Homo sapiens: one gene and its partner. The protein of the gene in region 1 purifies or fractionates together with the protein of each later gene. This does not show direct contact. Each region holds a gene or a part of one and is shown on either strand. Other genes may lie near its edges.

Region 1 (3,500 bases):
GTGGTGGGGAGGTGGGCAAGCATGTTCAAAACAGAGCATCAATAATAGTCTAAAACAGGTTGGCAAACTATACCCCAGGACTGCATCTGGCCTGCCACCTCTTTTTTTATGGCCCATACGGAATGGTTTTTACATTTTTCTAATGGTTGGGTAAAAAAAAAAGTCAAAAGGAGAATTTTGTGGCCAATCATGGGGGCTCATGCCTGTAATCCCAGCACTTTGGGAGGCTGAGGTGGGCTGATCACCTGAGCTCAGGAGTTCGAGATTAGCCTGGGCAACATGGTGAAACCCCATTTCTACAAAAAATACAAAAGTTAGCCAGCATGGTGGCAAACCTGTGGTCCCAGCTACTCAGGAGGCTGAGATGGGAGGATCACTTGAGCCTGGAAGGCAGAGGTTACAGTGAGCTGAGACCGTGCCATTGCATGTTCTCATGAGAGAACTGGGTGAGACTTGTGAGACCCCATCTCAAAAAAAGAAAGAAGAATTTTGTGACATGTGAAAATTACTATGAAATTCAAGTTTCTATGTTTCTGAATGAAGTTGTACTGGAATGCAGCCACAGTGGTTTGCTTGCATATTGTTTATACATTCTTGCTCTTGTGCTACAGTGGCAGAATTGAATAGTAGTAAGAGAGACTGTGATATGGTCCGCAAAGCCTAAAATGTTTACTATTTAGCCTTTTACAGAAAAAGTTTGCCAATTCGTGGTTTAAAAGCTTGTGTAGCCTCAGTGCTAGAATGAGAAGCCACTGATTTCAATAGTGATTTGCTCTAAGAATATTTTTCAATGAAAAGGTCCTCATATTTGTCGAGGCCATTCTTTTTATGGAAAGTTCTTTACCTTTGTTTACTTTTGATATGTGTTTAAGGAAGGAAAGGAAAATAGGTTAAATTTTACTGTCAGAAAAATGCAAATGTAAATAATAACATTTTATACTCATCACATTTAAAAAAAGGTAATTCTGAGTGTTTCCAGAGGCGAGGAGAAGCATCTTCCTGAGCACTCACACACTGCCAGTGAGAGGTGACTGGTAAAACCACCCCAGAGAGTAATGTGACAGTGTTAGAGATGTCGAGACACACACATACCATATTCTAGAAGTTTCCTGATTGGGATATATCCCAAAGACACCCACATGTGCACAAGGAGATGTATAACAGATTGTTTATCACTTTTTGTGAGCATGAAAAAGTAGGATTTTGAGACGGAGTCTAGCTCTGTTGCCCAGGCTGGAGTGCAGTTGCCTGGTCTCAGCTCACTGCAACCTCTGCTGCCCAGGTTCAAGCGATTCTCTTCTCTTAGCCTCCTGAGTAGCTGGGATTACAGGAGTGTGCCACCATGCCCATCTAATTTTTGTATTTTTAGTAGAGACATGGTTTCACCATATTGGCCTTGCTGTTCTTGAACTCCTAACCTCTAGTTAGCTGCCCACCTCAGCCTCCCAAAGGGTTGGGATTACAGGTGTGAGCCATTACACCCGGCCTAAAAGTAGGATTATTAATAGGAAAATGGGCAAATCGGTAGTGATATATTCATGCAATAGAATATTGCACAGCAGTGAAAATGAATGTACTAAAGCTTTGCATGGTAATATGGATAAATTGCACACTTTTTTTTGAGCAAGGAAAAGTGCATAATTAAATGTATATTGTGATAGTTATATCAAAATTTAAAACACTCACAGAAATATTGTTTTCTTCGTTATAAATATGCCATAACTATGAAAGAATACATGAGAGTGATGAAAACCATATTCAGGATGATGTTTACTCTTGGTATGTGTGGTATTTTAATTCTTTAAAAAAAAAAAAAAAAGTCTGGGCCTGGCACAGTGGCTCAAGCCCGTAATCCCAACACTTTGGAGGCCTAGGTGGGCAGATCACCTGAGGTCAGGAGTTCAAGACCAGCCTGGCTATTATGGTGAAACCCCATCTCTACTAAAAATACAAAAAATTAGCTGGGCATGGTGGCGCGTGCCTGTAATCCCAGCTATTCGGGAGGCTAAGGCAGGAGAATTGCTTGAACCCCGGAGGTGGAGGTTGCAGTGAGCCAAGGTCATGCCATTACACTCCAGCTTGGGCAACAAGAGCAAAGCTCCATCTCAAAAAAAAAAAAAAAAGTCTGCCACATATAAAGCAGAATGTAGGTTTGTTAAAAGCTATATGATAGGTGAAAGAGGGTTCATTATTTTATGCTCTTTATTTTTCTGTATCTGTAAACTAGATTATACAGATAAAAGTTGAGGACTTCTGTTTGCGTTGCCTTTTATTATGTTATAGAAGCTTCAAATTGTAGCTTAGATTAATTGCTTGGTCAGAAGAGTGTTAAAACTGGTGAGTGTTGACTTATGCTGTTTATAGATGCCTGACATTGTAGTAAGTCCTAGCTGTGGAGATTTTTGTTATCAGGCCCATCCCTATCCTTAATGTGTCTAAACAGTGAATTCCTGGCCCTACTGGAAAAGACCTCATCAACAGGCACACAGTCCTAAATATTTACTCTTTGTAAATATTTAAGTATGTACAGATAAATGAAATATTTTAATAGTATTTAAATACTTAAATACATGAAAAAGTCACCAGGATTCTATCACAGCAGTTAACTGAACAGGGCTTGTTTGAGGTCTGCTACTCCGTTTACAAAATCCTTAAATTCTACAACCTGGAAGAATTCACATAAAAACTTGCAGTTTTGATGCCTCAAAGTCAAGAACTCTGCTTTACAAAAAGAAGTTATCTAAATGTGATCAGTTAATATAGGGAAAGCACTGAACTTGACTAGTCATCAGGGATATGCAAATTGAAACTCCTGCGTGGCACCACTATACACCTACCAGAATGACTAGAATGGAAAGGCCTAAAAATCCCAGGGGCAGCTGTTGGAGTGTAAATTGGTACAACCACTTTGGAAAACTGTTCAGTAGTATCTGCTAAGGTGAACAGAAACATACCCTGTACCCAGCAGTGCCTCTTCTAGGCTTACGTTCAATATAAGGACTTATATTAGTCCACAAAAGACACGGACAAATATGTTCACAGAAGTACTATTCATAGTAACTGCAGACTGGAAAAGACTTAACATGTCATCAACTCTAAAATGGGCAAATAAATTGTGGTATATTCACATAAAATAATTTTTTACAGGCATGAGAATGAATGAGCTATAATCATATGCAACTGTATAAACAAATCCTGTAAGCATATTGTGGAGTGAATGAAGCCAGACAAGTAAATTATACATACTGTGTGCATATATTTATGTAGATAGGCAGAAATAATTATACATACTGCATGCATATGTTTACATAGATAGGCAAAAGTAATTATACATACCGCATGCATATATTTATGTAGACAGGTAAAAGTAATTTGGTACTTGGAGTCAGGACTCCTTGAGGGGAAGTGACTGGAAAGGGAAACATGGGGCAGTTCCCAGGGAGCTGGTAATGTTCTGTTTCTTGATCCGGGTGTTGGTTCCACTAGTGTGTTCAGTTTGT
Region 2 (3,500 bases), on another chromosome or scaffold:
TTTCTTTAAAACAATTTATCAGCATAAGTTCTCTCTTACACTGTTTTGAGGGAAATTTTTCAAATAAATGTTCACATTAGATGTGTTGCCACAGAATAGAAATTAGCATGAAACAGAGGATTATTTTCGCATCATTTTTTCCTCTACATATAATTTATTACAATTATACACTCAGAAAAGTATTTTTAAAATCCACAAGAAAACTAATTAGATTTAACAGACGTCAACATTTTTTTAAGTTTTGCTTTAATATTCATCTTTTAATCCAATAATTATTAATTTAAATTGTTATTATGATAATAATTCAGTCTTATTATTACTAAAAGTATTTGGGAAATTTAAAAAGTGGGACAAAAAGCTAACGATAGTCCTATGACAACTATTAACAGTTGAAAATACTTCCTATTTGTAAAATAAACATTTCCTTTATTTTTGACATTACTGGGTAATGTATGTTTCAAAAAATTAAAGCCTTCTGCCTCATTTTTAACAATTTTTGAAAATTGACAACTATGGCTTATCCTCATAACAAAAGCTATAGAAATAGCATCTATTATCACTTCTTAAGACTCATCTTCTCTACCATGAATGTCATAAGGAACAAACCAAAAAGTATCAGACTTTTCCTTCTATATTATACTTGTCACTTAATATCTTAATAATGCGTCAAATTGATTCCCCCATCTCTTTAATTCTCTGCTATTGTTAATGGCACAGAATCTTTCTTTCATGTAGTAGTTACTTAATAAATACTTGTTTATCCATTTATTTAGTAAAGGTTTCTAAAATAAGACATACTCATGAGGTTAAAAGATTTCATAAAAGATTAAGTTTAAACATAAGCTATAAATAAACCAAGTTATCTTATTAAAAAGGAAAGAGAGCTGGCAAGAACTTATTGTATATATTATGCTAAATATTAAAGGGTCATTTCACAGGGTGCCTGGGACCTGACTTTGGGTTCCATGAAAACAAAATTGCTAAGAAATGTTAAAGGAAATATAGCTCTAAGTGGAAAATAATTTGTCTCTAATTGATCGAATTTCAAATTTGGGAGAATTTAGCAGAACCAAAATCCAAACTCATGTGAGTATAGAGGCAATTTAACTTCATTAAAACCTAAATACAAAAGCTGATTCCAGAATGAATAATTAAATGTGGCTATGTGCTATGCTTCAGTAACATCTAATAGACCTTTGTGTGTTACACTATTAAAATAAATCAAGTAAAATTTTAATTGAAATGTTGTACTTTTAAAAGAAAATATCTACCCATAATTCTACCACTCTAAAAATTAATAGATAACTAGCAAAAATATATAAATTTTATAACTATGTAAAAACTACTTAGTTATATGGAACTTAAAAGCCTTGTAGGTAGTCCTTAAGGTATCATCACCATGAGCTGGAACAAATACATTGAGTAATAAATAAATAAATAGTTCATTCTCCTTTCTTTCAACTCTATTTCTTTAGAAGTTCTCTAACTTTAAATGATAACTCCTACAACTTTTATTTGATTCAAATGTTCATAACTCTTAATATTTGCTAGGCTGCATATTCGATACAACATTCTTCCCAGATTCATACATTTCTTTTTTGCAAATAGATGGTCTGTATTTGTTAGCACCTTTTTACTGCTCCCCTACTACATGCACATACACATGCACACACACATGTACAATTAATTCCTTACTATGGCAAATATTTTGTGACAGTCCCTTATGTTTAGTACCTCTCTTCAGCCTACATCACACTCCCTCTGACTGTGAGTCTTTCAAACTTCCCCCAACAGTAGGACCTTGAGCACACTTCATTTCTCCCTCTGTTAGAAAATTTTTATCTTTTTTCTCCACCTCATTAACCCTTCCTTCAGATGTCAGGTAAAATGTCACCTCCTCAAGGAGGCTTCCCCAGACCTCCCTGGCTGAGTCAAACTCCCCTCTAATAGGCTTCCCCATTACTGTGCATCTGGCCTTCATTATACTCACTTTTGCGTATGTGCACTGGCTTGTGTGATTATTTAATTAATTTCACAGAAATAAAAAGCTCCAAAGAGGCAGGAATCATGCCACATCTTTCACTCATCATTACATTACCAGGACCTAGCTGAGTGTTGAGCATAGAGTAGACTGCCAATAACTACATATTAAAGTATAGTAAAAAAGAAGGAAGAGATGCAAATTAATCATTATGTCAACAGATGACCTCACAGTTACTAGAAAAATTATTTAAATGGTCTCACTTGGTGATCTGAAAGATGACAGATTTGTAAAGAAAGTATCTCTGAAAATACATGTTTTATCTTCTTTCTTTTTTTCTCTCATTGTAATGGATGTAGCTTATGATTTAGTCCTGCTTTTCTTTCTCTTATTCATTTTTCTCTAGAGAAGGAAAGTCATAAATCTTAGGCCAGGCTCTCTTCAAAAGCAGAGTCTGAACTAAAAAATTATGTGCAAATAATACAAGGTGATCCCGGAGAGTAGGAGTGAGGCACCGGGTAAAGTGAACCAGGGAGAGAGTAAAGGCTAATACAGGTGCATGCAGTTGGGTCACTTCCATGGCCGGTTGAGGCTCCTTCTCACTTGGACCTTATGAGGAGCTGCAGAGTGCGTCTCGGAACTATCCACCCATTCCCACTGACTGCGAGGCTCCATGGTGGTGTTAGCTCCTCCTCACTTCCAGGCTGCATGGACCACGGTCAGAAGCAGGGGGAAAGATAAGACATGCTAGTAAAGTCACAGAAAAGAAAGTGAAAGATACTCAGCGCAAGCTTGAGATGGGAAATAGCACAACTGAGTCAAAGGCTGCCTACAATGATTGCCCGAGCCAGAGCCAGAAACAGATGTGAGATTGACAGGACATCCGGCAGGGTCCAAAAAGCATGTGATATACTTCATGAGAATCAGATCATTGCTCACCACAGTCAGCCCCAATGAGCCTCAATGTCAGTACCTAATTTATCACTCTCACCAAGCTTCCATTTATCTCCTGATGTGCCTCAGGACACTGAATTGAAGGCAGGCACAAGAATCTATTCCAGGCATTCTCCGACTTCCAATCATTGTGTCCCAAATAGTCAGTGATTTCTGGAATATGTTATCTGGAATATGTTACCTGCAACATACAAGTCACTCAAAAATAACATTACATGTAATAGTTCAATCCATCCGTCACCAGGCAGACTTAACAAAAATTCTAGGTCAATCCATAAAAGCACAGTTAATTTAAATCATATATCTCTAACAATCTACTTCAGGTATAACCTGAATTAACTATATTTCCGTGAATTGGTCTAGAAATACGTTCTGAGTTTTATCCATATACCAATAAGAAAAGAGATAAACATAGTACTAGCTTGTTAACACTATTGTATGTATTTCACAAGAAATCAGTCTGTATCAGTTGCTTTTCAGAGCCAACAGTTGGAAAAATAGGACAGTTGTTTCTAAGAAGAGGGAGACTCCAGACTTCACACATTTTTCACTCCATAAATGTAGC

What was found. Proteins that work in one complex are often made in the same cells at the same time.
Region 2: the proteins of PHLPP2 (region 1) and MARCHF1 purify together in Homo sapiens (affinity purification with western blotting; one study listed by BioGRID). This does not show direct contact.

What each region holds. Positions count from the first base shown.
Region 1 is NC_000016.10:71,672,702-71,676,201, reverse strand, and holds part of PHLPP2 (PH domain leucine-rich repeat-containing protein phosphatase 2), read left to right. Parts: intron 1-3,500. UniProt on the Homo sapiens protein: Protein phosphatase involved in regulation of Akt and PKC signaling.
Region 2 is NC_000004.12:164,374,020-164,377,519, forward strand, and holds part of MARCHF1 (E3 ubiquitin-protein ligase MARCHF1), read right to left. Parts: intron 1-3,500. UniProt on the Homo sapiens protein: E3 ubiquitin-protein ligase that mediates ubiquitination of TFRC, CD86, FAS and MHC class II proteins, such as HLA-DR alpha and beta, and promotes their subsequent endocytosis and sorting to lysosomes via multivesicular bodies.